Regions from separate parts of the Homo sapiens genome. Here region 1 is linked to region 2. Evidence: fine-mapped expression QTL. A gene starts in region 2. The other region holds a variant in brackets. All regions are shown on one strand. Distances are between the middles of the regions.

Region 1 (15,629 bases), 270 kb before region 2:
TGAGATTGCACCACTGCACTACAGCCTGGGCGACAAGAGTGAAACTCCATCTCAAAAAAAAAAAAGAAGAAAGAAAGAAAGAAACAGTCTTACTCTGTCACCCAGGCTGGAGTGCTGTGGTACGATCATAGCTTATTGCAACTTCAAACTCCTGGGCCCAAGCAAATCCTCTCACTTCAGCCTCCCAAGTAGCTGGGACTACAGGTACATGTCATCATTCAGCTAATTTTTTTTTTATTTTTAAGAGATGGGGTGTCACTATGTTGCTCAGGCTGGTCTCAAACTTCTGGCCTTTCAATGCACTGTGAGCCCATTACAGACAGGCGCCAATGCGCCCAGCATTTCTATCTTTTAATTCACTTATCTTTCACCAGCTATTTTCACCGGTTGTCTATCCTGCCTGTTGCAGTCTTTTTTTTATTTCCAATAGCAATATATTTCATGACTGCCTATTTTTGTTTAATAATATCCTGCTCTCATTGCAAGGACACCGTTCCCTCCTTACCATTTCAGTATGTAACATAATGTTAACCTTAAAACTAATTTTTTTAAGACAGGGTCTCACTCTGTCTCCCAGGATGGAGTGCAGTGGTGTGATTACAGCTTATTGTAGCCTCGACCTCCCAGGCTTGGGTGATCCTCCCCACTCAGCCACCTGAGTAGCTAGGACTATAGGTGAATGTCACCACACCTGGCTAATTTTTTAATTTTTTGTAGAGATGAGGTTCTGCCATGTCGTCCAGGCTGGTCTCGAATTCGTGGGCTCAAGCAATCCATCTGCCTCAGCTTCCAAAACTGCTAGGATTACAGGTGTGGGCCACCACACCCAGACTAAAAGTCATATTTAAAAATCATGCCTGCCACCTTTTGAAAGCATATGAAAAGGACTGAGTTGTTAGACATTTCCAAGGACATGTGAAGAGGATGTCTTTGAAGAGAGCTGTTGAAGCCCTCTGAGTCTCATGGCCCCAGGGAAAGGGTGGAATGGAGCAGATGACCTCTTAGCCCCAAGCTTAGGGTCCCATGCAGACAGCTTGGTTTGTGTCCCTGCCACTAAGGAAGAAAGAAGGTGGGAGCCTGGCTCACCTTGAGGAAGCCAAACAGCCTGCAATGCAGAGTGGAAGGCGGCGTCTAGGAAAACCGGAGGCTAAGGAATAAAGTTTTAAAAAAAATGTGTTGCCTACATCATAGGAGTGACAGTCTGAGTTTCAGCAGGGATGCCTACAAAAAACTCACAAAAGTGCCCATAGGAGAAAGAATCAGCTTTAAACCTCAACAGGGCCCAGAGAGCCAAAACCAGCCTTCAACTGTTCCAATCAAGTAAGACCTTCCTGAGCCCAGTTCCCTTCTTCCTTTCTTTTTTCTTTTAATTTTTATGGATACATAGTAGGTGTATATATTTATGGGGTACATGAGATGTTTTGATACAAGCATACAATGTGTAATAACCACATCAGGGTCAATGGGGTTTCCATCACCTCAAGCATGTATCTCTTTGTGTTATGAACATTCCAATTATACTCTTTTGGTTATTTTAAAATATTCAATAAATTATTGTTGACTTGTAGTCACCTCATTGTGCTATCACATACTAGATCTTATTAATTCTATCTGACTCTATTTTTGTACCCATTAAGCATCCCCACTTTTTCTCACTGCCCTCCTCAGCCTCTGGTAACCATCCTTCCATGCTCTATCTCCATGACTTCAATTGTTTTAATTTTTAGTCCCCACAGACGAGTGAGAACATGCAAAGTTTGTCTTTCTGTGCCTGGCTTCTTTCACTTAACATAATGACCGCCAATTCCATCCATGTTGTTGCAAATGACAGGCTCTCACTCATTTTTATGGTTGATAGTACTCCATTGTCTGTATGTGCCGCATTTTCTTTATCCATTTGTCTGTTGATGGACACTCAGGTTGCTTCTGAATCTTGGCTCTTGTGAACAGTGCTGCAATCCCTCTCCCCTTCTGGAACTCCAATCCCAGGTGGGTGCACAACAGCAACAGATAAAGGAGGAGGAGGAAAAAAAGAGAAGCTGACCACACCCCTCCCTGAAGTAAGAAAGCTCCTTGCTAGAGACCAAAGAGGCTTTATCTTTTACAAGAGTTTAAAGTGGGCCGGGTGTGGTGGCTCATGCCTGTAATCCCAGCACGTTGGGAGGCTGAGGCAGGTGGGTCACCTGCGCTCAGGAGCTCAAGACCAGCCTAGGCAACATGGCAAAACCCTGTCTCTACAAGAAATACAAAATTTAGCTGGTGCAGTGGCACGTACCTGTAGTACCAACTGCTGGAAGGTTGAGGCAGGATAAATCACTTGAGCCCAGGAGGTCAAGGCTGCAGTGAGTCGTGATCCTGCCACAGCACTCCAGTCTGGGCAACAGAGTAAGACCCTGTCTCAAAAAAAAAAAAAAAAAAAAAAAAAAAAAAGTTCAGACTATTTTCCTATCTGGGAATAGACTATTTTAACGTGAATTGAAACCATGGTTTCATGTGACTACCAAGCATTTTATTACCCAGGAATGATCAGAAAGTCATCCACTGGTAGGGGAAATACTGCCCCCAACTAGACAAATTTTAAGGGAGGATGAGAGACTTTCTGTGAGACTAATTATCATCCTTTCAAATGGTTCATAATTTCCACCTCTCCTGTTATTAATTTTGCTTCTTAAGCCTGAGAAGTATGCCTCATGATAAATTTTGACATGTCCTTTGCAATTTTTGTTTTATAGCTCATTCTGCGTGGGAATTCTTTTTTGATGGACAGACTCTTCCACGTTAGGTGCTTTTGCGGTTGCCTGAGCCCTTTCTTCCTGATTTGCACACCCAGGAGCAGGTCTCATGTTATAGAGTTTGGGGTGTTGGTTCTCAGCCAAAAATATTTCTGATGCAGCACCCATGTGCAGCACCAGCCTGGTTCTCATATTTACATCAGTGCCCTTTTCTTCCTGCACCATGAGCAAGCAGCACATTTCTGGAGTGTTTTCAACCCCAGCTACATGGAGGGAGCATGGGTCGGGTCTCCTGCCAAGCATAGGCATGTTCATCCCCATTCTCACATAAGCTTTAAAGCCAGCCTATGTATATCCAACTCCTTCTACCCCTGGGCTACTCTTAACCAGCTTATCCTGTAAGTTTACTCTTCATTCTTAGTACGGAGAGAGAGGGAAAGAAAGAGTATGTGTGTGTCCCCATCATTCCTCCAGGTTTCGAGGCAGTTACAGAGAGGGTTTGATGTGTGCTCACTCCACCATCTTGAGCAGATGTCTTCCAGTCATGTCTCAGACACTATTGAGCAAGATGTAGGCCCCAGCCACCAGGACATCTCAGCCTTCCAACAGAGTGGACAAGCCCATTTCCAAAGTGGCAACATCTTCACTCAGTGATGGGAGGAATTTGTTTATTAGTGGCTTTGGCAGGAATCCCTCCCTCTCTCGCCTGTCTTGCCCAGAAGAGTGGACACCTCTCCAAGAGAACTGATGTTGGAGAGTCTGGCTCAATATTCTAAGAAGCCACCATGCCAGAGGCCTCCCTAAGCCCTCCTTCTCACCCCAGAGGCTTGACTGTGGACACAGGACTTTTGGATAAGAATCTCAGGTGTAAATGCTGGTATCACATAGACCAGACTCTCCCTTCTGCCCTAAAGGGCTCAGAAGACTCTGGGCCTCAGTGGTGCTGCTCACAAGCTCCTGCTCTCTCCTATGGCTACACCACCAACCCAGCCTGGCTTGAGCTTCCCAAGCCTGGAAGCTCCAACAGCCAATTCAGGTAAGAGGGGCAAGAAGAGGGGCCTGGGCACAGCTCACTGGGGCAGATGGGGAGTCTACACCCCAGGAGGTAACCTGGATGTTTCGGGAACTGTATTAGTCTGGCATGGAAGCAGCCCATCTAGTGTAGCCCACAAGCCTCAGAACCCACAGATCACCCTGTCTGAAAGCAGAGCAAGTGGCCAAGCAGCAAGGCTGGATTACAGTCAGTTCCAGTCGGCTGGAATCACTGAGTGCTGACTGTACCCCCGCCACAGCACTAAGAACATTGCACGCTTGTCTCATTTAATCCTCTCCCTATCCTAATGTGGGAAATGTTGTTATTTGCTCCATTTTCCAGGTGAGGAATCAAAGCTCAGAGAGGCCAAGGAATTTGTCCAAGGTCACATAACTTTTAAGTGATCGAGTCAGAACATGGGTAGTTTGAGTCTGGAAGCCACACTGCCAGTCCCTCTGCTCCGCTTCCTCTGGCACTGTGACTCTCCAGAATGTTGAGCTGGTCCCCACTACATCAGCTCTTATGGAGAAGTGTCCATTTTTCTGGGCAGGATGAGAAGGGCTGGTGCTGGGCCCACAGCAGACCAGGGCTGTGGGGAGTAAGGAAGGCCTGCAGCATGGACAGGTAAAGAGACCCCTGTCCCCACAGACAGTCAGAGCCCAGTGCCCCTCCACAACAATCTGGTCCAAGCTCCTTGTTCACTGGGACAGAAAATAAGGGTGAGAAAAGTGACAGTGAACTGTCCAAGGTCACACAGCAAGAAACCAGCTACACCAGGACCAAAACGCATCTCTAAACAAGAGCAGCCTCATCCTGATGCTTCGGAACCCACCATCCTTCTGCACAACCCAGAGCTGTTTTCCATTTCTTATTGCCTTTTTGTTTGTGTATGTGTTTGTGATTTTTTGAATGGCAGATGACCACACCCACCCCAGGAGATTTTTCTTCAAATGATCCGGAGCGAGGCACAGGCATCTGCCCTTTGTAATGCTCCCCAGTTGACTCTAGCATGCTGAGATCCCCTACTCCAGCCAACCTTGACTTGCTCTCCTTGGTGCTTCCCTCCTGCATCCATGCTTTTGGAAGGAGTGGGCTGCCACCCCTCCACTCCTCAGTGGGACACGCAGCTGCCCACTATTAACACAGCTCTCCTACCAAACCCAGGGGCCTCCTCTCTGAGCGGCATAAAATGCTGCTAATCACCTGTGCTGGGATTGCTACACCTACAGCCTTCCAGACATCCAGCACCCCAAACCCAACACATCCCAACACAAACTCATCATCCTTGCCCCACGGCCCTGGACTCCTCCGTTTCCTTCATTGGCTGCACACATTGAGCACAAGCTAGGTACATTGTGAGGCCCCTCATGCATGAAGTAGAAAAAGTGTCATTAAAGGTGCATGGAAAGCTTTTTCCTTTCTTTTGTGATCTCTTTCTAGGATTGTCATGGTGGGTTTTTTAATTATTATTTGCTGTTTAATGGTATTCTAAGTGAAAAAAAGTCAAAAAATTAAAACTGTTAGTACAGTCTCTTTGCTGCTCATTTTATAGTGTGCAATGACAATTTTAAATGCAAATACCAGAGCATTTAGCTGGTGCAGAATCACCGAAATTGCACAGTTCTTCCTTCATGGCTTGTCCCCAGAGGGTGCCATGAGCTGGCCAGAAGAGGCACACCCAAGGCAGACTCAGGGAAGTATAGAAAGAGGAAGAGAGGACTGGGCATGGTGGCTCACTCCTGTAATCCCAGCACTTTGGGAGGCGAAGGCCAGTGGATCATCTGAGGTCAGGAGTTCAAGACCAGCTTGGCCAACATGGTGAAACACTGTCTCTTCTACAAATACAAAAATTAGCCGAGCGTGGTGGCAAGCGCCTGTAGCCCCAGCTACTCAGGAGGCTGAGGCAGGAGAATTGCATGAACCCAGGAGGCAGAGGTTGCAGTGAGCCAAAGATGATGCCACTACACTCCAGCCTGGGTGACACAGTGAGACTCTGTCTCAAAAAAAATAAAAAATAAATAAAAAGAAGGAGGAAGGGAGGATTCCCCAGGCACAGGGCCACCCTGTGACACAGCGCACATGCATATGCACACTGCCTGCCTGTGGGTTCCACCTCCCACCAGCCAGCCAGTGCCCCTAGTCTCACCTGGGGGTAGGGCCTGGAAAACTCAAGCAGGTGCCTCCACTTCCCACAGACTCACAGCCCCAACACACAGCATAAGGCTGATCCCCAGGGATCTCTAAACCTCCATGCTGAGATGCACTTGGTACCTGGATAGGGGGTAGGGAGAGGCGCAGACACATCATAGCAATGCCAGCCTGAAGTAAAGACAGCTACCACCATGCCATGCCCCAAGACATCACAAAGTGTGAGCACCCAGCAGTCTCTGAGCCCCCACCTAGGCCCCTGCAGAGGTGGAGAGCAGCAATGGTCCTGGGGTGGAGGCAGGGAAGAGGAGGTCAGTCACACACGGAGCCAGGGGCAGGGGAGCGGGTGGCTGAGAACCCATGCCAAGGAGGCAGTGCAAGGTGGGCCCACATGTCAGCTGAGCCTCCAAGCCCCTGGCACACTGCATTGTCCCATTGGACTTCACTTACAAAACACAAATTCAAAGGTAAAATTAAGAATTTCGAAACAGTAACCACAGAGCACTAAAATCCAAGGGGGCGGGAGCCTTGTGAGCTCAGAGTGCAACTGCACTGGCCACATGCCATGAAGCTGGCCCTGACCACAGGTCTGTCCATGCTCCCTCTGGGAGCCCTTGCCTGGATAGTGGCAGCCACCAGGCTTGTCTCCGTTCCTCAGATCCTCCTTTGCTTTTGGCCCTGCCCTCTAAGCCAAAATTATCTAGACCCAGGACAGACATCAACCCATGAGCTGGCTCAAACAGATTCTCTTTCAAAAGAATTTGAACCAAGGGGCCCAGATCCAGAAACTGGTTACTGGTGGAAACCTGGAGCTGGGAAGGTCACGAAGCTCAGGGGCTGGGTTGGAAGGGGATCAGTGAGGACCTTCTTCCCTGAGAAAGAACAGGGAACAGCATAGCAGTAAGAATGCAGGGCAGCCTGTAATCCCAGCACTGTGGGAGGCTGAGGCGGGCAGATCACTTGAAGCCAGGAGTTCGAGACCAGCCTGGCCAACATGGTGAAACCCGGTCTGTACTAAAAATACAAAAAAATTAGCCAGGCATAGTGGTGCACCTGTAATCCCAGCTACTCAGGAGGCTGAGGCAGGAGAATCGCTTGAACCTGTAACTGTGGAACATGTGTGTTTAGCCAATCCTTTCAGCATAAAGCTCCTATCCCAACCCCTCCTTCTTCAAAGTGCCTGTCTCTGGTCTTGGCCAGAGGCAGGCTTTCCAGCCTGTGGGATGGCCACCTTGCAAGCTGTAACCTTTTATAAGAAATTTAGAAAAGTCCTATTGAAAACTTTTTTTTGAGTCCGAATCTCATTTCTACATGTTGATCCAAAAGATCTCTCCTTTTCTAAATTTATAAATTTTGGCGTTTTTTAAATAAGTTAACAATATGAACTGTAAGTTTTCAGGGCATTTCAAAGTGTGCGTGTGTATGTGTGTGTGTGTGTATACTTGCATGTGTGTATATGTGTGTATTGATGTATAAGTGTGTTTATATATGTGTACATTTATATATGTATGTATTTATGTATGAGTGTGAATGTGTGTATATGTGTATGTGTGTATTTGTATGTGTGTATGTGTATGTGTGTATATGTATGTGTGTATGTGTGTATACGTATGTGTGTATGTATGTGTGTGAGTGTGTTCGTGCTCTGACTGAAGTTAAATACTTAAATACTCTTGGAATTAATGACACTTATTGCCCAGTTTGTCAGCTTTGTACAGGCTTATTATGAAGTTTGAGTTAATTTATTTCTTGAAAGAGAATTTTCTTTTTGATCAATGTTGTGGAAAAATTTTTTTTCAGCAGGACTTTTACTATTAACTTAACGATCCCCATGCACTAAGAAATGAGGGGGACTGACCACCAGCCAGCAGCCGGAATCCATCAAACTTCAATTCCTAAGCATCAGTGTTATGGGTCCTTCTAGTGCAAGAGTATAATCAGTTTCCCAATTTAATTGTGATATTTTATGTGGCATTGTGTGACTCAAAGTCGCAACTTACAGGGTCATTCCACTCATACTCCCCTTGAGCTATACAACTTCTTCTGACTGATGTATTTGTGTTTCCTAGTTTTTGTTTTCTTCATCTACACAACAGACGAATCACTAACACCAACATAATACCAACATGCCAACATGTAAATGACTTGGCAGATCCTCTTTTTTTTTTTTTTTGAGACAGAGTCTCACTCTGTCGCCCAGGCTGGAGTGCAGTGGCGTGATCTTGGCTCACTACAAGCTCTGCCTCCCAGGTTCACGCCTTTCTCCTGCCTCAGCCTCCCGGGTAGCCCACCACCACGCCCGGCTAATTTTTTGTATTTTTAGTAGAGACGGGGTTTCACCGTGTTAACCAAGATGGTCTCGATCTCCTGACGTCGTGATCTGCCCTCATCGGCCTCCCAAAGTGCTGGGATTACAGGTGTGAGCCACCGCGCCTGGCTGACAAATCCTCTGTTTTTTTCTCCATTTTCTCTTACTACTCGTAGTCTTTTGCTCCTTTTATGTATCATCTTGGACTCATGGCTTCTCCAATCCACCATATGCCCATTGGCTTCAGCCGATACTCTCCTTTTGACATTCAAGTTGCCTCAACTTTGGCCAGCAGAACCCCTTTTAGATGGCTCCTCTGTCCTTTTGACTCTACTAATTTATTCAAACTTTCTTGATTTCTGGCCTTGTTGTTCAGTGTTTAGGATTTCCTTGAATTTCCAGCTCAAAGTATGGAATATGCCATTCCTCCCAAGACGCTTTTGGTAAGAAGAGCATTAGAGACCAGAATGTGGGTGCCAAAGTGCATTGTGAGGTGACATGGCTCCTGGGCATTTCAATAGACAGAGAGACAAAGGATACGTATTTTTAATTTACTATTTTTGTTCTTTTAAAAGCTTGAATTTATCTTGATTTTTTCAGTCCAGTTCTAACAATAAAGTGTTCCTCATCAAATTATTTTTTTACTTTTTTCTTTTATTTTTAGCTGACACATAATAATTGTACATATTTATGGGATAGAGTGTTTTTCTTTAGAAATTTTAGTTTTATGAATTCCATTAAGGTATTTTTTGCTTGGTTTGAAACATCAGTGCCATTCTGGTTTTATTTTTTTTTAATTTTTTATTGATAAGTCATAGATGTACATATTTTCAGGGTACATGTGATAATTTAATACGTTCACCTCACTGGTAAAGATTAAATCAGTGTAATTGAAATATTCATCACCTACTCAAATTCTTGATTCTGCAATTGTAGTTCCTCTTCTCCTATGCTAAGAAGTCTAGATTTCTAACAAAATAAATGATCACTTATTTGTCTGGAAAAATTAGTTCTAAAATAATATTACAACATTAATGCAAATTTTCCAATTATCAAATACAGCTCAACTTTTCTAATAGTTCTTTTTTGTTTATTTTTAGACGGCATTCCACTAAGGATTTGCTAAAAATCTCTTTGCTCTAAACTCATTCATAACCTCTGACTCTTTGGCTCTGTATAGAGCTTTGGCTCATCTGTTCTCGTTTGTTTGCAGTTTGAGAGCCCTGGCATCAGAACAGCTGACAGACCAAAGCTCTAGAGGGGGGTGACTGGCAGCCACCAGGAAACAGGGGATCCTCCCTACCGTGAGGTGATAGAGGAGCCTCCAGCAGCGCAGTGGCCAATATTCTGCATGACGGTTGTGTTTCTCCATCTACAATGGTTTAATACATGGGTATAATCCAGATTGGCACACATGATTTCTGGCTGAATTAGCCAGTTTTGCCCCTGACATTTTATCTATCAAACCCATGTTACTTTCACAGGTTTAGGAGTTTGTTTGTTTTTTTCTTTTTCTTTTTAATTCTGTTCTTATCTTCCAAGCTTTTAATTTATCTTGCTCCTTTTTATGAGCTATAGGCTCTCCCTCCTTTTATAATATTCTACACCCCCTTACCAACCTAATATATCAGGTATGTGTTATTACATCAAGATTTTCAGTGAAAAATCAAAATGGTTCTCCCAATCAGTAGTTTCTTGACCCAGAACCAAAGTTTTTT[A/T]TTTTCTCACAGGAGGATCAGATTCTTTATGATTAGCCAAGAATAGTAGCTATAAATGCAGTATCTTAAGATTTTGGCCCAAACTCTCTTTTGACTTATGAATAAAAATGTAGACTTTGCTTCATATATATTGCTGTCATCCTTATTTTAATTACAGACCAATAGAGTGTAGATTTCCAAATTCTCAGAAGTCTTTGGAAAACACAATTACCAACTACCTTAACTCTATAGAAAATTCAAACTTCCCAAGGTGAAATGAAAATGCCATAACAATACAACCAGATATACTTCAATAAAGTTTAAATTAAAAATACATAAGCATCCCTAACTCATTTTATGAGGCCAGCATCATCCTGATACCAAAGCCTGGCAGAGACACAATAAAAAGAAAAGAGAGAATTTTAGACCAATACCCCTGATGAACATCAGTGCAAAAATCCTCAATAAAATACTGGCAAACCGAATCCAGCAGCACATCAAAAAGCTTATCCACCACGATCAACTCAGCTTCATCCCTGGGATGCAAGGCTGGTTCAACATACGCAAATCAATAAACGTAATCCAGCATATAAACAGAACGAAAGACAAAAACCACATGATTATCTCAATACATGCAGAAAAGGCCTTTGACAAAATTCAACAATCCTTCATGCTAAAAATTCTCAATAAATTAGGTATTGATGGGATGTATCTCAAAATAATAAGAGCTATTTATGACAAACCCACACCCAATATCATACTGAATGGGCAAAAACTGGAAGCATTCCCTCTGAAAACTGGCACAAGACAGGGATGCCCTCTCTCACCACTCCTATTCAACATAGTGTTGAAAGTTCTGGCCAGGGCAATCAGGCAGGAGAAAGAAATAAAGGGTATTCAATTAGGAAAAGAGGAAGTCAAATTGTCCCTGTTTGCAGATGACATGATTGTATATCTAGAAAACCCCATTGTCTCAGCCCAAAATCTCCTTAAGCTGATAAGCAACTTCAGCAAAGTCTCAGGATACAAAATCAATGTGCAAAAATCACAGTCATTCTTATACACCAATAACAGACAAACAGGGAGCCAAATCATGAGTGAACTCCCATTCACAATTGCTTCAAAGAGAATAAAATACCTAGGAATCCAACTTACAAGGGATGTGAAGGACCTCTTCAAGGAGAACTACAAACCACTGCTCAATGAAATAAAAGAGGATACAAACAAATGGAAGAACATTCCATGCTCATGGATAGGAAGAATCAATATCATGAAAATGGCCATACTACCCAAGGTAATTTATAGATTCAATGCCACCCCCATCAAGCTACCAACGACTTTCTTCACAGAACTGGAAAAAACTACTTTAAAGTTCATATGGAATCAAAAAAGAGCCCGCATCGCCAAGTCAATCCTAAGCCAAAAGAACAAAGCAAGAATAAAGCTGGAGGCATCACTATTCAAACTATACTACAAGGCTACAGTAACCGAAACAGCATGGTACTGGTACCAAAACAGAGATATAGACCAAGGAACAGAACAGAGCCCTCAGAAATAATATCACACATCTATAACCATCTGATCTTTGACAAACCTGACAAAAACAAGAAATGGGGAAAGGATTCCCTATTTAATAAATGGTGCTGGGAAAACTGGCTAGCCATATGTAGAAAGCTGAAACTGGATCCCTTCCTTACACCTTATACAAAAATTAATTCAAGACGGATTAAAGACTTAAATGTTAGACCTAAAACCATAAAAACCCTAGAAGAAAACCTAGGCAATACCATTCAGGACATAGGCATGGACAAGGACTTCATGTCTAAAACACCAAAAGCAATGGCAACATAAGCCAAAATTGACAAATGGGATATAATTAACCTAAAGAGCTTCTGCACAGCAAAAGAAACTACCATCAGAGTGAACAGGCAACCTACAGAACGGGAGAAAATTTTTGCAATCTACCCATCTGACAAAGGGCTAATATCCAGAATCTACAAAGAACTCAAACAAATTTACAAGAAAAAAACAAATAACCCCATCAAAAAGTGGGCAAAGGATATGAACAGACACTTCTCAAAAGAAGACATTTATGCAGCCAACAGACACGTGAAAAAATGCTCATCATCACTGGTCATCAGAGAAATGCAAATCAAAACCACAATGAGATACCATCTCATACCAGTTAGAATGGCAATCATTAAAAAGTCAGGAAACAACAGGTGCTGGAGAGGATGTGGAGAAATAGGAACACTTTTACACTGTTGGTGGGACTGTAAACTAGTTCAACCATTGTGGAAGACAGTGTGGCGATTCCTCAAGGATCTAGAACTAGAAATACCATTTGACTCAGCAATCCCATTACTGGGTATATACCCAAAAGATTATAAATCATGCTGCTATAAAGACACATGTACACGTATGTTTACTGAGGCACTATTCACAATAGCAAAGACTTGGAACCAACCCAAATGTCCATCAATGATAGACTGGATTAAGAAAATGTGGCACATATACACCATGGAATACTATGCAGCCATGAAAAAGGATGAGTTCATGTCCTTTGTAGGGACATGGATGAAGCTGGAAACCATCATTCTCAGCAAGCTATCACAAGGACAAAAAACCAAACACCACATGTTCTCACTCATAGGTGGGAATTGAACAATGAGAACACTTGGACACAGAAGGAGAACATCACACTGGGGGCCTGTTGTGGGGTGGGGGAAGGGGGGAGGGATAGCTTTAGGAGATATACCTAATGTTAAATGACGAGTTACTGGGTGCAGCACATCAACATGGCACATGTATACATATGTAACAGACCTGCACGTTGTGCACATGTACCCTAGAACTTAAAGTATAATGAAAAAAAGAAAAAGAAAAAAAAATACATAAGCACCTGTAATCCCAGCTACTCTGGAGGCTGAGGCAGGAGAATTGCTTGAACCCAGGAGATGGAGGTTGCAGTGAGTCATGATGGTGCCACCACACTCCAGCCTGTGCAACAGAGAGAGACTCCATCTAAAAAAAAAACACATGAGCAGATATGTCCAATTATATCATGATTTATTTTTTATTGACAGAGAAGTGTATCAGATTATTTCACCTTTAAACCGTTCTCAGAAAGTTCAAGTGGAAACTTTTTTACAGAATCATACAATTTTCAGACTACATGGATTCCAATAAAACCAGTTTGTAAAATACACCAGTGTTTACAATTACAGCACACACTTATGCAATAGCTATTTAGTGTTGGTGAAGAAATCCAAATTCTTCCCAAATTTTATGATTTATTCTGAACTATATTATTTGAATTTAAAAGGTGAATTGACATATCACCTGTTTCAATTATCAAGTTTTTAATTCCTTTCTGAAGTTTTAAATAGCATTTAATTTAAAAATCCCAATTTTGGAATAAATGTTTTAGGTGACAAATGAGTTTTTAAATGAGTCATTAGCCAAAGAAAAGAGTGGGCCCCACTTTCTCATACCCTCTGCCACAATCAACACCATGCACATCTCTGGAAGCTGGGCTTTTTGTTTTTAAGCAACATGATGAGACCCACACCTCATGACCAAGTTTTTATCAGTTCTTTAACCTGAGCCTTGCCTTTGTCAACCCAAAGTTGCAACAGAGGGAGATGTTACTTAATGTTACTTGTATTTAAATTTCAGCTTCTATTTGCTGCCATCAGCTAAACTGAAACTCTTCATTTAAAACACAGGCGGTGGCTCACGCCTGCAATCCCAGCACTTTGGGAGGCCGAGGCGGGCAGATCACTTGAAGCCAGGAGTTCGAGACCAGCCTGGGCAACATTGGGAAACGTTGTCTCTACTAAAAATACAAAAACTAGCCAGGTGTGGTGGCAGGTGCCTGTAATCCCAGCTACTTGGGAGGCTGAGGCAGGAGAAACGCTTGAACCCGGGAGATGGAGGTTGCAGTGAGCTAAGATCACGCCACTGCACTCCAGCCTGGGTGACAGAGCAAGACCCCTGTCTAAAAACAAAAACAAAAACAAAAACACACAGTAAGCGTTCCACCTCACTGGCCCTCCATAATCTAGGCCTGATCTGGGGTGAGGCCAAGAAAAGGGGAAAACTATTCCATTTTGATCTATTTCCAATTGCAAGACTCAAAAGTTCAAGTGAGGCAGGGCGCAGTGGCTCATGCCTGTAATCCCAGCACTTTGGGAGGCTGAGGCAGGCGGATCACCTGAGGTCAGGAGTTCAAGACCAGCCTGGCCAACACGGCGAAACCCTGTCTCTACTAAAAATACAAAAATTAGCTGGGCATGGTGCCAGGTGCCTGTAATCCCAGCTACCCAGGAGGCTGAGACAGTAGAATCGCTTGAAGCGGGGAAGCGGAGGTTGCAGTGAGCCAAGATAGCACCACTGCACTCCAGCCTGGTTGACAGAGCAAGACTCCATCTCAAAAAAAAAAAAAAAAAGTTCAAGTGAGACAGTGAGCAGTTAATGTCAATGAAATGATTTCACCTGGGAAAGCTTGTCCTCGTGATTGATGCAGGTGGGATGACATCAGAGGGGCCTACTTTCTGGGCTGTGATCTCCTAGGGCCAGAAACTCAAGATGATGTTTTGTAGGCCTAATCTTATACTGAGGCAATTTCATAGAAGACTGGCTGGCATCTCCAGGAAATTTGGAGGCATGTGGCCACTTCCTAGAGGAGCTGTTTTAGGTACAGAGGCAAAATTTAGAAGTTACTGAGGTTTGTTCAGGCACTCATTTCTCCAAACGCCAGGATGGTTTTTTTGTTTGTTTGTTTGTTTGAGACGGAGTCTCGCTCTGTTGACCAGGCTGGAGTGCAATGGCGGGATCTCAGCTCACTGCAACCTCTGCCTCCCGGGTTCAAGGGATTCTCCTGCCTCAGTCTCCCGAGTAGCTGGGATTACAGGCGCCTGCCACTACATCCGGCTGATTTTTGTATTTTTAGTAGAGACGGGGTTTCACCATGTTAGTCAGGCTGGTCTCGAACTCCTGACCTAAGGTGATCCACCCGCCTCGGCCTCCCAAAGTGCTGGAATTACAGGCGTGAGCCACCGCGCCCGGCCACCAGGGTTTTTTTTGTTTTTGTTTTTTTGTTTTTGTGGGGTTGTTTTTTAACGTAGTTGTTGTTGTTGTTGTTTGTTTAATTTTCTCAGTGAGGTCCAGTGAAGGAACCAGGAACATGTACCTCCTCCACAATATGAGGATTTATACTTTTGCTCTTGGAGATGTTTGCAGGCACCTGAGAAGGCTCCTTGCTCAGTTCTTCCTCTAAGGTCCTCCTTAATGGGGTTTTACAACCTGATCTTGCAACCTCTCACTGGGGGAGACAAGAAAGGTCCGTGTTTTCCTTTTGTGAGCCTCATTCTCCCACCTCTGGCAAGGATACGTTTTTCCAGGTTTTGTTGTTGTTGCTGAAGAAACTGGGAGTCCCAGGAGCCAGAAGAGAAAGCTGTAATTTGGGGCCAACTCTAGTGTTCCAGTTCCAAACTTCACAGGCTGGGCAGCACGCTGGTTTAGCATGAGCAAGCAGCAGGCAGGCTCCTCCCTACTGATCTGTGCGGGGGCTGAGGAACACTCCTGGAAAGTCAGTCTAGTAAAGGGATCCTACAAATAGGTCACACAGAAGGAAAACAAAAAGACATCCAAAAAAAGTCTATTTCCGAGAGGTAGGGAATGGCAGCATGGTGGAAAGATCAACAGAC
Region 2 (15,629 bases):
GGCCGAGGCAGGCGGATCACCTAAGGTCAGGAGTTTGAGACCAGCCTGGCCAACATGGTGAAGCCCTGTCTCTACTAAAAATACAAAAATTAGCCGGGCATGGTGGCAGTCACCTGTAATCTCAGCTATTCGGGAGGCTGAAGCAGGAGAACTGCTTGAACCCAGGAGGCGGAGGTTGCAGTTTGCTGAGATCGCGCCATTGCACTCCAGCATGGGCAATAGAGTGAGACTCTGTCTCCAAAAAGAAAAAAAATTAAAAAAAAAAAGGAAAAATAATGGTTTAAATCCAGTAGGGAGGACACCATGGCATATTACTGCCACCAATTGGCAGCACACCTTAATTGCAAGAGTAGAAAAGAAGGGAAAATTATTTCTGATAATTGCAAAGGTCTACCAACGTAAGAAAGAACAAATGCCTTGTGACCAAGTGAAAAATGCAAAGGAATACTTGATTTGGGGGAGATTAAGATGAGACAGTGGTCATGATCCCTGAAACACAGGGTTTGTGGAGGTGGTAAAAATGAAGGGTGAGGAAGCTTGATCAGAAGACCTCTCTTTGCTCTAGATATCGAGCAGTTGCACTTGGAACTCTGAAAAAGGGGAAGGAAAGGGAAGAATGACGAATCAAATTTTACTTTTCTTTTTTTTTTTGAGACGGAGTCTCACTCTGTCAGCCAGGCTGGAATGCAGTGGCGCAATCTTGGCTCACTGCAATCTCTGCCTCATGGGTTTAACCGATTCTCTTGCCACCTGCCTCAGCCCCTCGAGTAGCTGGGATTACAGGTGTGCGCCACCACGCCCGGCTAATTTTTGTGTTTTAGTAGAGATGGGGTTTCACCATGTTGGCCAGGCTGGTCTCAAACTCCTGGCCTCAAGTGATCTGCCCACCTTGCCCTCCCAAAGTGCTGGGATTACAGGCATGAGCCACCGCGCCCGGCCCAAATTTTACTTTAAAAATCCTTTCTGTGTAAGAAATATCACCATTATCCTCACGCAAAAAAAGTTGATTTAATGTGTCTTACTCTAACTGTAAGGCCAATAGAATAACTGAAATCTTTTGTGTGCTAAAATTATCCAGAGAGAAAAAGACATAAGTCTGGCCCAAATTTTAAAGAAACTGTGCAATCTACACAATCAGAAACTCATTCTTTGGGTTATAAAGCAAAGTTCTTCATGTTATTGGTTAATAAATGTTAATTAGAACTAATGCATTTTCAGAAACACAATTTGGTATATTTGCAAGGAAAACAAGAAAAGCAATCTAAAGCTCCCAGTAAAACAACACTATATAAAAATCTTTTAAACTATTGCAACCCCTGTTCAATGTCTTCCCATTTCATAGGCTATAGAATGCATTTTTTTTTCTATTTATAACATTAAATATCTACTTTTGGACCAGGTTGGCTAAGAGATTGAGTTGAATTAAAGTTCTGATGGGCATGTGTCTGAAGAATTACATTATTTTTCATATCGTAGGGGTGAAGGGAAAACTTTTATATGTAATAACAAAGGGAAGTTTTCCCTCTGCTGAAGGTTTGCTGAAAAATTAACTGACGACAGTCACATTAGGCTGGGCGCAGTGGCTCACACCTGTAATCTCAGCATCTTGGGAGGCCAAGTTAGGGAGAATTGCTTGAGTCCAGGAGTTTGAGACCAGCATGGACAACACAGTGAGACCTCATCTCTACAAAGATTTTTTTTTTTTTTAGTTAGTGGGCATGGTGGTGTGTGCCTGTAGTCCCAGCTACTTGGGAAGCTGAGGCGGATCGCTTGAGCCCAGGACTTTTAGGCTTCAGTGAGCTGTGATAGTGCCACTGTACTCTAGTCTGGGTGGCAGAGTGAGATCCTGTTTCAGAAACACCAAACTTTTTAAATTAACGTGTGTGTGTGAATAATCCAGAGTGATTACCTATTATTTAGTGTGGTAAAGAAACTTATATACCCTTTTTCATAAGGGAAGGGGGAGATGGAGAATGTAGAAATTCTTTTGAGTGACAGCAAGTCATTAGGGAGAACAAATGGACCTTGGAGGTGGAAGGCAGACATTAATGGGAAGGTGAGGTGTAGAGCTGCACAGGAACAAAGATTGTCTTATTATGCAGAGAAAGTCCTCCAGGTAATCCCTTGGGGCTGCCCTCAGAAGAACAGATGAAAAGTCTGTCAGGTCATAGTGACTGTCAATCTATTCTCTAGTGGTTGATATTTCCTGGTTGTTTGATGAGATTACTAGGGAGGGAGTTTTACAACATTGCATTTCTTCTTTTTATTTATTTGTTTTTTTTTTTAGACAGAGTCTCGTTCTGTCACCCAGGCTGCAGTACAGTGGTGCAATCTCAGCTCACTGCAACCTCCGCCTCCCAGGTTCAAGCTATTCCCCTGCCTCAGCCTCCCCAGTAGCTGGGACTACACGCATGCGCCACCATGCTCAACTAATTTTTGTTTTTTTAGTAGAAACAGGGTTTCACCATGTTGGCCAGGCAGGTCTCAAACTCCTGACCCCGGGTGATCCATCTGCCTCGGCCTCCCAAAATGCTAGGATTACAGGCATGAGCCACCATGCCCTGCCCTGCCAACATTGCCTTTCTTTTGGAAAAAAGCTTTCTTGGTCAGATAAGGAAATTCCAAAGAGAGTGTACCCTTGGTGCTTCGGGAAAGAGGATCAGGGAGACAGGGAAAGGTAAGAGACAGACCTTGGTTCTGAGGCCGTTCAATTTTCAAAGCATTGAGCATGCTGAAGTGCTGTATTTTGGGGAATCGTTTTACTGTGCCTCAATAATATTTTGATCATATGTATGACTTGAAGCTGTTAATAAAAATTGTGATGTTTGAAAATCCTTGCCAAGAGAATTGGAATCTTGATTAAGAATTTCATTGGCCAGGCGCAGTGGCTCACGCCTGTGATCCCAGCACTTTGGGAGGCCGAGGTGGGCTGATCACCTGAGGTCGGGAGTTGAGACCAGCCCGGGCAACGTGGTGAAACCCCGTCTCTACTAAAAATATAAAATTAGTTGGGCGTGGTGGAGTATGCCTGTAATCCCAGCTAGTCTGGAGCCTGAGGCAGGAGAATCGCTTGAACCTGGAGGCCGCGGTGAGCCAAGATCGCGCCATTGCACTCCAGCCTGGGCAACAAGATCAAAACTCTGTCCAGGGAGGGTGGGGGTGGGGAAGAATTTCTTAAAAGCAGCCTCTGCTTTTATGTGTAATTCTGTAACAAAGTCAACATGTTATGGGACCTTTATTACTTTATCTTACCAGATAGGTAAAGGATGAATAAATCTGCCCTTCACTTACATTTATGATTAATCAGACAGGTCAGCTAGTGTGAATAATTTCTAATGAAATAGAGAAAAAAATGAAAAAATATCAAGGCATGCCTTGAATGTCATTAACTATTTTAGATGATATCTTTTAAGCCATAGGAATCACAGAACGCTTTTGTGTAGGTATAACAATGTTGCATTTTAAAAAGAGAAGTGAAGCAGGAGTGGGGAGTAGAGGGAAGGTGGGTCAATGGCACCTACTTCTGGACCTAGCAAGGCTGAGGTGTGAGAATCACTTGAGCCCAAGTCAGAGGTTGCAGTGAGCTATGACTGCACCACTGCCCTCCAGCCTGGGCAACACGGCAAGACCCTGTCTCAAAAACAAACAAACAAACACAAACAAAAGGGAGGTGAATGAAGGGAGAGGTGTTTACAAGGCTAGTGCAATAGTTTTGGTGTAAGGCAATGGGAGGGGAGAAGGGTTTGAATAAGGATGGCAGCAGTAGAAAAAAAAGCAAGCCATCTGAATGAGGTATGGTGGGACTTAGGCTTTTTTGAAAGAAAATAATCAAGTCTGGCCCTACAATTTAGAGCCTAGGCTGCTATGTAATTATTTATAAACAATTTATAAAATTGATTATAAAAATGACTTATAATCAATTATTAAGTGTGAGGGCAAAATACAATTTTAGATTTCTATAAACTTAGAAAGTTGATTACCCATGCCCTCAGAGTTAAAAAAATGCTAAAAACTTCTTAGTAAGATTAAAAACAATAAATGTAATAATGCTGATGGCATTTCTATAATATATTAAATAGTTTAAATATTAAATAGTTAAATAGTTTAACACTCGTAACAACCCTATGAGATTGGTACTGTTGCTATTTCCATTTTGCAGTTGAGGAAATTGAGACAGAAAGAGATTTGTCTAAGGTTACAAAGCTTTCCAGAGCAGTCTGGTTTCACAGTTCATGTTCTTAATCACTACACTAGCTGAAATTACAATGTTAGGATAAATTAGGAAATTCAAATAAGAGAGATGAATTATTTTAAGTGTTTGAGCTGCAGCTTTCTGGCAAGTAGCTGAACACGAGGAAACTCAGTTAAGGAAAAATCAAGAACAGACTAATTTTGGGAGACCTAAGAGAAGGCATGTAGTAGAGAACAGATTGAAGAAAGAGGAGGTGCTAGCAAAGAAATCAGAAGACCAGCAAACTAGGTAGGTGTAGATCCGGGGAAGTGTCTTAAAAGAAAGGGAAAAAGGGTTTCAAGTAGGGGATGGGGATTGGTGAAAACCGTAACTGTTTCTTTTGAGAATGTGTCAATGAAAGGAACGTTGATAGCATAGCAACTGGAGGGAGTAACATCACTGAATTAAAAAAAAAAAAAAGACAAAAGAAACTTTTTTTTTTTGAGACAGAGTCTCACTCTTATCGCCCAAGCTGGAGTGCAGTGGCGTGATCTCGGCTCACTGCAACCTTCACCTCCCGGGTTCGAGAGATTCTCCTGCCTCAGCCTCCCGAGTAGCTGGCATTACAGGCGCACACCAGCACGCCTGGCTGTTTGTATTTTTAGTAGAGACAGGGTTTCACCATGTTGGCCAGGGTAGTCTCGAACTCCTGACCTCATGTTATCTGCCCGCCTCTGCCTCACAACGTGCTGGTATTACAGGTGTGAGCCACCGCACCCAGCCAAGACAACAGAAACTTCTGAGAAACAGAAAGGAAGAAGACAGTGGATAAGAACATATTTACATTATAAGGCGCTAGGAAAGTAGTGGTGGAAGGAGAAGGTGGGAAGGGATGGCATAGTTTCAGGCAGAGGGAGTGGCTTTGGAGAGAAGGGTTCTGGGTTAATTTGGTTAGAAGTTTTGGGATCACGAACAGGAGGTGGTCACAGATATTTTATAATGGAGGCAAGGTCAAACCGGAATTGGAGTCCCATAGCTCTGAGCCCAGGAAACTGGATGAATTTATCTATTAGTATGGACTGGGACTGGCATCTTTAACAACATGGAAAGCTTGAAACAGTCTTTGTGGAAAATAGGAGATCAGCCAGAGATTAGAAGAAAACGCAAGAAAATTATAAGTAGGAGTCCAGTCACGAATTCATATCCAATCTGGTCAGTTATGACTTCCTCCAGCGAAAAGCCACACATCTTGCAAACCCTTGAGAGAGAAAACACAAATAGGGGTAACCTACTGGAGACAGGCCCTTAAGACTATAAAGTAGTTGAGCGATTCCATACTGAAATAGAGTTGGCTATAGCGATAGAGAAGTTAGTCATATATGGGGCTAATGATCCAGGAGAGTAAGGATTCACTTTTGTGGTGAAAAGTTGTAAGCAGGTGAAAGGTAGGGATCCATGGCCACGGACGGGCAGGTGGAGATCAGGGAAGAGGCGACGTTAAACATAAATAGTTTGTTAATGATTTCACCTTACTGATTATTTCTCTTTTGGCATCTAGAAGGCTAAGATTCTCATGTGTATTTCAGAGCTACTGAAAGTAGTCCTAGGTTGTGGAGGGAGAAATCCACTTTCACAGCTGAGTCTATCTTCTCAGTCTAGTTATATTCTCCTCTCACAAACTAGCCAATGCTGCCGCCTTATGCAAAGCCGACACCACGGAAAGATGTGCTTTACAGAGGCAGGATGACGCCAATCGGCCTAGGGCCGGCGGTGTTTCGTCTAGATTAATGGCGAGGGAAGTCCCCAATAGTCCTTTTGAAACCTTTTCACTCTTGCCTGGTGAAAGCGCTTGTCAGCCGTAAATCGCGAATACAATGCTAAGCTCTGAGGCCCTTGCTAAATCCAAGTAGGAGCAGGGATCTGCGCGGCCTCACCCTCGGGTTTCCGCAGGGCGTCTCGAGAGCTGCGGATGGGGGCAGCAGGAGCCGGGCGGGAACAGAGGAAAGCGCCGGCCCTGAGACCTAGGGAGGAGCCTCGGTGAAGGAACCCGGGGCGGGTTCCTGCCTAGATCTCCAAGAAGCTCCAAAAATGGCGGGCGGCAACTCGGCGAGCCGGACGCGCAGGCGCCACCGTGGCCGTCCTTCCGCCAGCCGCGGGCGGCCCAAGAACCGTCCACAGCGCCCTTATCCAGAAGCCTACGCCTCTCGCGATTGGCTGAACTGCGCGAGCGCTCCGTGTGGGGGCGGGGCCGCCACGCAGCGGCCACGTTTCCCGCCCCGCTGGTGCGCGTGCGCGCAATCCCCACTGGAAAGCGTTTGCGCGCGCCCCTGCCGCGGCCCCTAGCTCGCGCCTCAGCTCCCTCCCCTTTCCGGGCAGGCCCGTCCCGTCAGCAAGGCAGTGAGCACCGCGGCCAGCAGAGGGCGGTCCGGACCCAAGTCTGCAGCGGCGCCATTGGCGTGTGGAAAATGCCACCAGATGGCGGGTTAGGATTGCAGCTCCGTTGAAGGCGCGGCCCCCGCTCCCGAACCCCCGGCGACCACCCCGTAACAACCCCCCCACATCGGGAATAACACACCGGAGACTTTTGGGGGGAAACTAGGTCGATGGTCGGCGGCGCCCGGATGGGCAGCTGAGGTGAGTGCGGGCGGCGGCGACGGCGGCGGGGGGCGGGAAAGAGGGGGAATGCGGCGGCAGCGGCGCGGGGGCTGGAAGCGCCGATCCAAGATGGAGGCCGGGCGAGAGCGAGAGAGCGCGAGCGGCGAGCGGGCGGGCCGGGCGCGGGCCCCGTGCGGGGGAGGGAGGCCGCGCGGGCCTGTGCGGGGTGCGGCGGTCGTGGGCCGTCCGAGTGCCCGGAGAGACGTCTGTGGGCGCGGTGGGCACCCCGGCGTCTTCGTCGCTTGCCACCCCTCCCGCGGGCACCAAAAATTTTGCCCCCGCCCGCCCGGGCACTACGGCGACAGGCGCGGAAGCCTTTGTGGCGCGCTCGGGCCCGCCGCCAAGCCCGCCCTCCGCCCCCCCCCGCCCGGGCTCTCGGGAGTCGCCCGCGCCCAGCGGGGCCGGGCCGACGCGGGCTGGCGCGAATGCCTTCCGCCGCCTGCCGACCTGCGTTTCTGCGGTGTTTTAGCGGCGGCGGCGTCACATGACAACGAGTTCATTTCAGCGGAGGGGCCTGGGGGGTCGCTCGGCGGGGCGGCTGGCCCAGGCTTCTTGTTGGCGGGGTGGGGCAGCGGGGTGGCGGCTGGGGGAGATGCATCAATGCTGGGCTTTCCAGCTATCTGCCCTCTCAGCCCCCGACGGGGGCCTCCTTGTGAAACGTGTCCAGGCCTAAGCACTGCCCCGCTAGTTTGCCAGTCCCCTGAGAGACGAGGCCAATAAAAGTTGTTTTCCCTCCTTTCTCGAGGTGGGGGCGGGGTGGGAAACTAGAGTGCTTGGAGTTGGACCTGAGCCCCGTTTGCAGGGTCCGAACTGGGTTCTTCTTGTATGGTATGGGTACTAAGAAATTTTCAGGTTTTAGGATTGTCACGTCACCCCCATCTACCCACATTTGAAATGTTATCTGTCGATTCTCTTCACATTGCAGGGAATCGTGCTCCGGGAGTATAAGTCATAGGATAGTTTTGGACACTTACAGACAAAAAAAAAACAAAAAAAAAAAACGCAATTTGTCATAAAAAAAAATTATTTGCTGTTAAAGTTGGTGTTAAGATGGATAGAGTTTATTCTCGTGATTCTGACTAGAAAGACTTGCATCTTCGCAAAAATAGTGTTTACTTGAGAAAGTATCTGAATTGGCACAAAGTTGTGTGATTTGTAACTTATCTGGAATTTGAATGACTCTACATTTTAGTTTTCCTCGTGTTTTAAGAAAATTGCACATTCCGATGGTGAAGCACTTAGGGAAATATACAGAAGAGTGAAAATAAAAATAACTTGTTTATTGTATGGTAATGTAACGTACCTTGTTCTAATATTCATAATGTATGAGGAATTCAGACTGAAAAATTTTAACCAAGTAGGGAAATATGGAATGGAAAGAAGCAGAAATGTTATTTCCTTGCTTTTGATGATTAAGAATACTTATAAGACAAATTGTTACCCAAATAAAGTTGTAGAAGATCTACAGGTGTTTTGCCACGCATTTTCCTTTACATATTTAAAACGTACTTCGAGTAAACTAAATTAATTCAAGTGATCTACCAGTGGTCATTTTCACAAACGAACTGCTTTTGAGTGGAAATTTTTCTGTATCCACTTCAGTTTCGATGTTCTGATAAGGCTAAGGAATATTTAAATAGATGCAAAATATGGAAGTTTGTTGTGTTACTAGGATTGCCTCCTTTGAAGAGACTAATAAAATGACTGTAGATTTGATTGGCTCTTTTAAAGCCTTAAAGGCACTATGGTGTAGGGGAGAAGGAGTGGGTCCTGGACCGAAGTTACTTTGAACGTCCCCTGGGTTTGTGGTGTTCAGGGTGTTACCTTTGAGCCTTACTTTCTTTATCTCTAAAAATGGGGAGCTGGGCCCAGTGGTGCACTCCTGTAGTTCCAGCTACTCTGTAGTGAGGCAGGAGGAACCCTTAAACCCAGGAGTTTGAGGCTTACCTGGGCAACATACAAGACTCCATCTCTTTAAAAAAATAAAATAAAATGGGGATAGTATCTTACGGTGATTGTGTAACAAGATGTCTGTGAAAAACACACATTTAATTGCTGTAACTTAAAATTTACAGAATTTTGTACAGTTTTAATCTTTTTTTCCTTGATTCTGACTCTGTGTATGTTCATAATCTCAGTGCTGTGAGAAGAAATAATGTACTCTGGGAAAGATACGTTCTTGTTTCCCCTTTTATTTGTTGTTTTGTCCTGTATCTTTATATCTTTATTTAGGGGGGTATATTAGTTTCTTTCTTTTTTTTTTTAATGCATAACAAATTTCACACTTAACAGATTAACAATTATTTCAGCTTCCATAGGTCAGAAGTTTGGGGAGGTATAGCTGAGCATCTCAGGCTAAAATCAGGGTGTCAGCTGTGATTGCAGTGCATATCTGAGGCTTAGAGTTGTTTTTCTTTTTTTTTTTTTTTGAGATGGAGTCTCATTCTGTCACCAGGCTGGAGTGCAGTGGTGTGATCTCGGCTCACTGCAACCTCCGCCTCCTGGGTTCAAGCGATTCTCCTGCCTCAGCCTCGCAAGTAGCTGGGTCTACAAGTGCGTGCCACCATGCCCACCTAATTTTTATATTTTTAGTGGAGACGGGGTTTCACCACGTTGGCCAGGATGGTCTCCATCTCTTCACCTCGTGATCTGCCCACCTCAGCCTACCAAAATGCTGGGATTACAGTTGTGAGCCACTGTGCCCGGCCAGAGTTGTCTTTCAAGGTCACTACTTGTTGGCACAATTAATTTCCTTGTGATAGTGTGACTGAAGTCCCCATCTTCTTGTTAGCTGTTGGCCAAGGACTGCTCTCAGATCCTTGCCGTGTGGCCACATAGTTCACAACATGGCTGTTAGCTTTTATCCATGCTAGCAGGAGTCAGTCTCCCTATTTCCTGTGTGTCTGACCTCTGACTCCCCCCTTTAAGGTCTTTTTTAAAAGCTCACCAGCTAAGCTCTGAGGCCCTTGTGGTAAACTTAACTGATTAAGGGCCTTAATTACATATGCAAACATATATTTTGTCATATAATCACCGTAATGATATCCCGTTATATCTACAGGTCTCTCCCACACTCAAGGGGAGGGCATGATACAAGGGTGTGGGTTAGTGGAGGCTTTTAAGAATTTTGCCTGCCGTAGGAAAAGAAGTATCTTCACATTTACCTCTTCAGATTCCGGACATACAAGGAGAGGACCTAGGCAGAGCAGTAACCCCACTTGATCAGCTTACTCTTACTTATATTGCCTTTTCCTCACCTTTTTTCCTTTCCCGTTTCCTGGTACCTTAGTTTACATGCCTTCCTCTATGAAATAATTTTATTGCATTGAGAGGAAATTAAAAATAAAAACGAAAATTTAAAACGTTATAAAGAAGGGAGGCAATGGGAGAAGGGAGTTTGTATAATTATTTTTTCTTTCATTTCTGCCACTAAGAACACCTTTTTAAAAAATTTAAAAAAATTACTATTATTGGCCTGGTACAGTGGCTGACACCTGTAATCCCAGCACTTTGGGAGGCCGAGGTGGGTGGATCACCTGAGGTCAGGAGTTTCAGACCAGCTTGGCCGTGGCCGACATGGTGAAACCCTGTCTATACTAAAAATACAAAAATTAGCCAGGCGTGGTAGCACTTGCCTGTAATCCTACTACTCAGGAGGCCGAGGCAGGAGAATTGCTTGAACCTGGGAGGCGGAGCTTGCAGTGAGCTGGGATCACGCCACTGCACTCCAGCCTGGGTGACAGAGTGAGACCCCGTCTCAGGAAAAAAAAAAAAATTTATTATTTTTTGAGTGTGCCCCGACCAGAGTGCAATGGCATGATCTAGGCTCACTGCAACCTCCACCGCCTGGGTTCAGGCGATTCGCGTGCCTCAGCCTCCCGAGTAGCTGGGACTGTAGGCATGTGCCAGTACACCTAGCTAATTTTTTATATATTTGGTAGAGACAGTGTTTCACCTTGTTGGCCAGGCTGGTCTCTTGACCTGAAACTCTTGACCTGAAACCGTCTGTCCACCTTGGCCTCCCAAAGTGCTGGGATTACAGGCATGAGCCACCGTGCCCGGCCAGTTATTTTTATTTTTTAAAAATTACATAATTCTTGGCCAGGCGCGGTGGCTCACGCCTGTAATCCCAGCACTTTGGGAGGCCAAGGTGGGTGGATCACGAGGTCAGGAGATCGAGACCATCCTGGCAACACGGTGAAACCCTGTCTCTACTAAAAATAGAAAAAATCAGCTGGGTGTGGTGGCGGGCACCTGTAGTCCTAGCTACCGGGGAGGCTGAGGCAGGAGAATGGTGTGAACCCGGGAGGCGGAGCTTGCAGTGAGCCGAGATTGTGCCACCTGCACTCCAGCCTGGGTGACAGAGTGAGACTCCGTCTCAAAAAAAAAAAAAAAATTACGTAATTCTTGCCATTCTTTGATGCCTTTTGTTTTACCTGTTTTTGATATGATATTGAATCTCAGAGAAGTTAAGGAATTTATTTTTTATTTTTTGAGACAGGGTCTCTCTCTGTCACTCAGGCTGGAGTGCAGTTGTGCAGTCACAGTTCACTCACTGCAGCCTCAACCTCCCCAGGCTCAGGTGGGGCCTGGAGTAGCTGGGACTACAGGTGCATGCCACTACGCCCGGCTAATTTTTGTATTTTGTATAGAGATGAGATTTTGCCATGTTGCCTAGGCTGGTCTCAAACTACTGGCCTCAAGTAATCAGCCCGCCTTGGCCTCCCAAGGTGCTGGGATTACAGGCGTGAGCCAGTGTGTGTGGCCGAAGTTAAGGAATTTAAATGCCTTGGATCACACTCCTCTTAAGTGGCAGAGTCACACAATCATTGCGTCAGACAGTTGCTGTGGTGTGATTGGTCTAGCAGCTTTTGAGGAGAGAATTCTTTTTTTTTTTTTTTTGGGACGAGTCTTGCTCTGTCGCCCAGGCTGGAGTGCAGTGGCATGATCTTCGCTTACTGCAACCTTCGCTTCCCAGGTTCAAGTGATTCTCCTGCCCCAGCCTCCTGAGTAGCTGGGAATGCAGGCACGCACCACCATGCCCGGCTAATTTTTTTTTTTTTTTTTTTTTTTTTTTTTTAGACAGTTTCACTCTTGTTGCCCAGGCTGGAGTGCAGTGGTGCAATCTCGGCTCACTGCAACCTCTGCCTCCTGGATCCAAGTTATTCTTCTGCCTCAGCCTCCTGAGTAGCTGGGATTACAGGCATGTGCCACCACACCCAACTAATTTTGTATTTTTAGTAGAGACAGTGTTTTTCCATGTTGGTCAGGCTGGTCTCGAACTCCTGACCTCAGGTGATCCGCCTGCCTCGGCCTCCGAAAGTGCTGGGATTACAGGCTTGAGGCACTGTGCCTGGCTGCCTGGCTAATTTTTGTATTTTTAGTAGAGACGGGGTTTCAGCACCTGCCTAAGGCCAGGCTGGTCTCGAACTCCTGACCTCAGGCAGTCTGCTTGCCTTGGCCTCCCAAAGTGAGCCACTGCGCCCGACTGAGGAGAGAATTCTTATGAAGAGAATAGTTATTTGCAAGTCTCAGAGTAGGGGTATTATTGGTGGAACAAAGAAGGCAGCAGAAGTTTAGTCATGGCATACGGTTTAGCAGTCCAAGAAGCAAAATATTTTCATGAAGAGGCAATTAAGACAGGTTAGCCAAGGATAATCAAGCTTTAAAGCAAGCTTGTCCAACCCGTGGCCCAACACAATTTTATACACTTTCTTAAAACATTGTGAGTTTTTTTTTTTAGCTCATCATTTATAATTAGTTTATTTTACAGGTGACCCAAGAGAATTCTTCCAGTGTGGCCCAGGGAAGCTAAAAGATTGGACACCCTTGCTTTAAAGGATATAACTGGGAATTAAAATTGCTAGGGAGATATATTTTAACACAGAAATGATATAATAGGGGCTTGGTAAATTTTTGTTGACTGAATAAAAATATAAATCTTTAGAATTTAGATGATTCTTGCTAGAGTGGTAGGGAAAAACTAGGAAGCAGAGAGCTAAAATGATATTCTTGCATAAGCCACAGAATGAGGTGATTCTTGAAGGAATTAGAATTGTGTCTGTAGGAAGTTTTCTGTTATTTTGGTGGTTAAGGGGACAGTCAGCTTCCTGCCTTTTAGTGCTGAAAGTGTCTTATAATTCAGTTGGTTTTATAGAATCTTTTCTTTATATAACATACCCCTTATTGCTTCCCTCAGATTTTTCTCCTCCTTTTCTAAATCAAGCTTGTCCAACCTGTGGCCCATGGGCTGCATGCAGCCCAGAATGGCTTTGAATGTGGCTCAACACAAATTTCATAAACTTTTTAAAAACATTATGAGGTTTGTTTTGTTTGTTTGTTTTTTACCTTATTAGCTATCATTAGTGTATTTTATGTATGGCCTACAGCAATTCTTCTTCCAATGTGGCCCAGGGAAGCCAAAAGATTGGATACCTGTGTTCTAAATCAAGGGTCCCCAACCACTGGGCTGTGGACCCATACTGGTCTTTGGCCTGGTAGAAACTGGGCTGCACAGCAGGAGGTGAGAGGCAGGTGAGCTAGCTTTATCACCTGTGCTCCATCCACCTCCTGTCAGATCAGTGGGAGCATTAGATTGTCATATGAGTGCAAATTCTATTGTGAACTGCACATACAAGGGATGTACGTTGCGTGCTTTATCTAATGCATGATGATCTGAGGTGGAACAGTTTTATCCTGAAACCTTCTGATTCCCCACCCCATCCGTGGAAAAATTTTTTTCCACGAACCTGGTCCCTGGTACCAAAAACGTTGGGGATGGCTACTCCTTTTTGCCAGTCAGTAGTGAAGGATGTCATAAATCTTGCCTTCTTCCCTGCCCCCCGTTTGTTTTTTATTTATTTTTAATTTTGTGAGTCCATAGTAGGTGTATGTATTTATGGGTTATGTGAGAATGTCTTACCTTCTTTATGAAATACATTCCTTTGTGCTATGGGCCAAAATGATGTACCATTTAGTTGTCCAAGAATTTCAATGGAATTTTGCTGTAAACATAATAGCAATGGCTTTTAACTTGTTTTCTAGCTTCTGCTAGCAGTTACAAAAACATTTTACATTGTAGCCTAGTACAAACACACACATCCACACACAATGAAAATAAGTTTCATGAAATAATACTTTATCTTTATGCAGTGCACTCTGATATTTTCTGATCTTTTCTATTAGGAATGCTGGTTGTGGCTGGGCACAGTGGCCCACACCTATAATCCTAGCACTCTGGGAGGCCGAGGCGGGTGGATCACTTGAGGTCAGAAGTTGGAGACCAGTGTGGCCAACATGGCGAAACCCCGTCTCTACTAAAAATACAAAAATTAGCTGGGTGTGGTGGCATGTGCCTGTAGTCCCAGCTGCTCGGGAGGCTGAGGCACGAGAATTGCTTGAACTCTGGAGGCGGAGGTTGCAGTGAGCTGAGATGGCACCACTGCATTCCAGCGTAGGTGACAGAGTGAGACTCTGTCTCAAAAAAAAAAAAAAAAAAAAGATGGTTGCAGTTTACCTAAGAAATGTCACGACTCACAGCAGCTAACACTGGGAAAAGCATTGAATTGTAATCTCATTGGTAAAAAGGAAAGTGCAAAGTAGAGCCATGAGAAGAAACCATTTCACTTCCATCAGATTGACAAGCATTAAAAGTCTGATAATGTCAAGTATTGGTGAGAATGTAGAGAAATTACATTCTCACTTTTGTCAGCAGTGTAAATTGATACAATCATTTTCTGAAAGATGTTAGTAAGATAGTAAATTCAAGCTTCATGTATTTTAACCCCAGCAGTTGTACTCCTGTCTTTATATTCCTGATGAATGAAATCCTTGTATTTTTATTTTGGAGACGGAGTTTCGCCCTTGTTGCCCAGGCTGGAGTGCAATGGTGCAATCTCGGCTTACCGCATCCTCTGCTTCCCCAGTTCAAGCAATTCTCCGGCCTCAGCCACCCGAGTAGCTGGAATTACAGGGATGCACCACCATGTCTGGCTAATTTTGTATTTTTAGTAGAGACGGGGTTTCTCTATGTTGGTCAGGCTGGTCTAGAACTCCTGACTTCAGGTGATCTGCCTGCCTCAGCCTCCCAAAGTGCTGGGATTACAGGCGTGAGCCACGTGGCCAGCCAAAATCCTTGTATTTTTGTACCAGGATGTGTGAACAGAATGTTCATAGTAGCCTTATTTGCAGTAGCCAAAATTCAGAAATAAACCGTATGTCTTTAGTGGTAGAATGGTTAAATTAATGATGGTTTTCAAAAGTTAAAATAATTTTGGTTACTGGGATAAGCCAACTTGGTCACAGTGTATTATGTATCCCTTTTGTATTTACTATTATTTTGATAGGATTTTTGGCCTATTTCTTCACTAGGCATATTGCTTTATAGTTTTATTGTAATGTCTTTGTCAGGTTTTGGTATTTGGGTTATGATGGCTTCATAAAAAAGGTTGGGACGTGTTCCCTGTATTTACTGAAATAGTTTGTGTAATAGTGTTATTCTTCCTTGAATTTTAGAATGTACCAGTGATAAGCCATCTGGACTTGGAATTTTCTTTTTGGGATGGTTTTGATAACAAAATCAAATTTAGTTTCTATACTAGATATAGGGCTATTCAAATTTTCTGTTTCATATTGTGTCAATTTTGGTCTGTTTCATCTTGTATCAGTTTAGGGAAATTGGTTCATTTTACTTAATTGATTGGCAGGAGTTTGTAAGATTTCCTTGCTATCCTTCTAATGTCTGTAGGATCTGTAGTGATATCTCTTCTTTAATTTCTGGTATTGTTATTATTATTTTTTTTTT

The links.
Region 1: its variant is fine-mapped to the expression of STAG1-DT in putamen (GTEx, PIP above 0.99).

The regions. Positions count from the first base shown.
Region 1 is chr3:137,014,358-137,029,986 of GRCh38, reverse strand. No RefSeq gene overlaps it. Among named protein-coding and RNA genes, the nearest start is that of IL20RB-AS1, 40 kb to the right of the region's middle. RefSeq lists a silencer at 1,903-2,103, an enhancer at 6,419-6,919 and a cis regulatory region at 15,197-15,629. The variant A/T (reference allele first, on the strand shown) is at 9,940.
Region 2 is chr3:136,743,371-136,758,999 of GRCh38, reverse strand. It overlaps STAG1-DT (STAG1 divergent transcript), which reads right to left and starts at 6,329. Exons shown (of 1, transcript NR_185911.1): 1 at 3,160-6,329. STAG1 (STAG1 cohesin complex component) reads left to right here and starts at 6,622. Exons shown (of 34, transcript NM_005862.3): 1 at 6,622-6,805. RefSeq lists enhancers at 5,314-6,245, 6,039-6,358, 6,246-7,177 and silencers at 6,369-6,598, 6,919-7,298.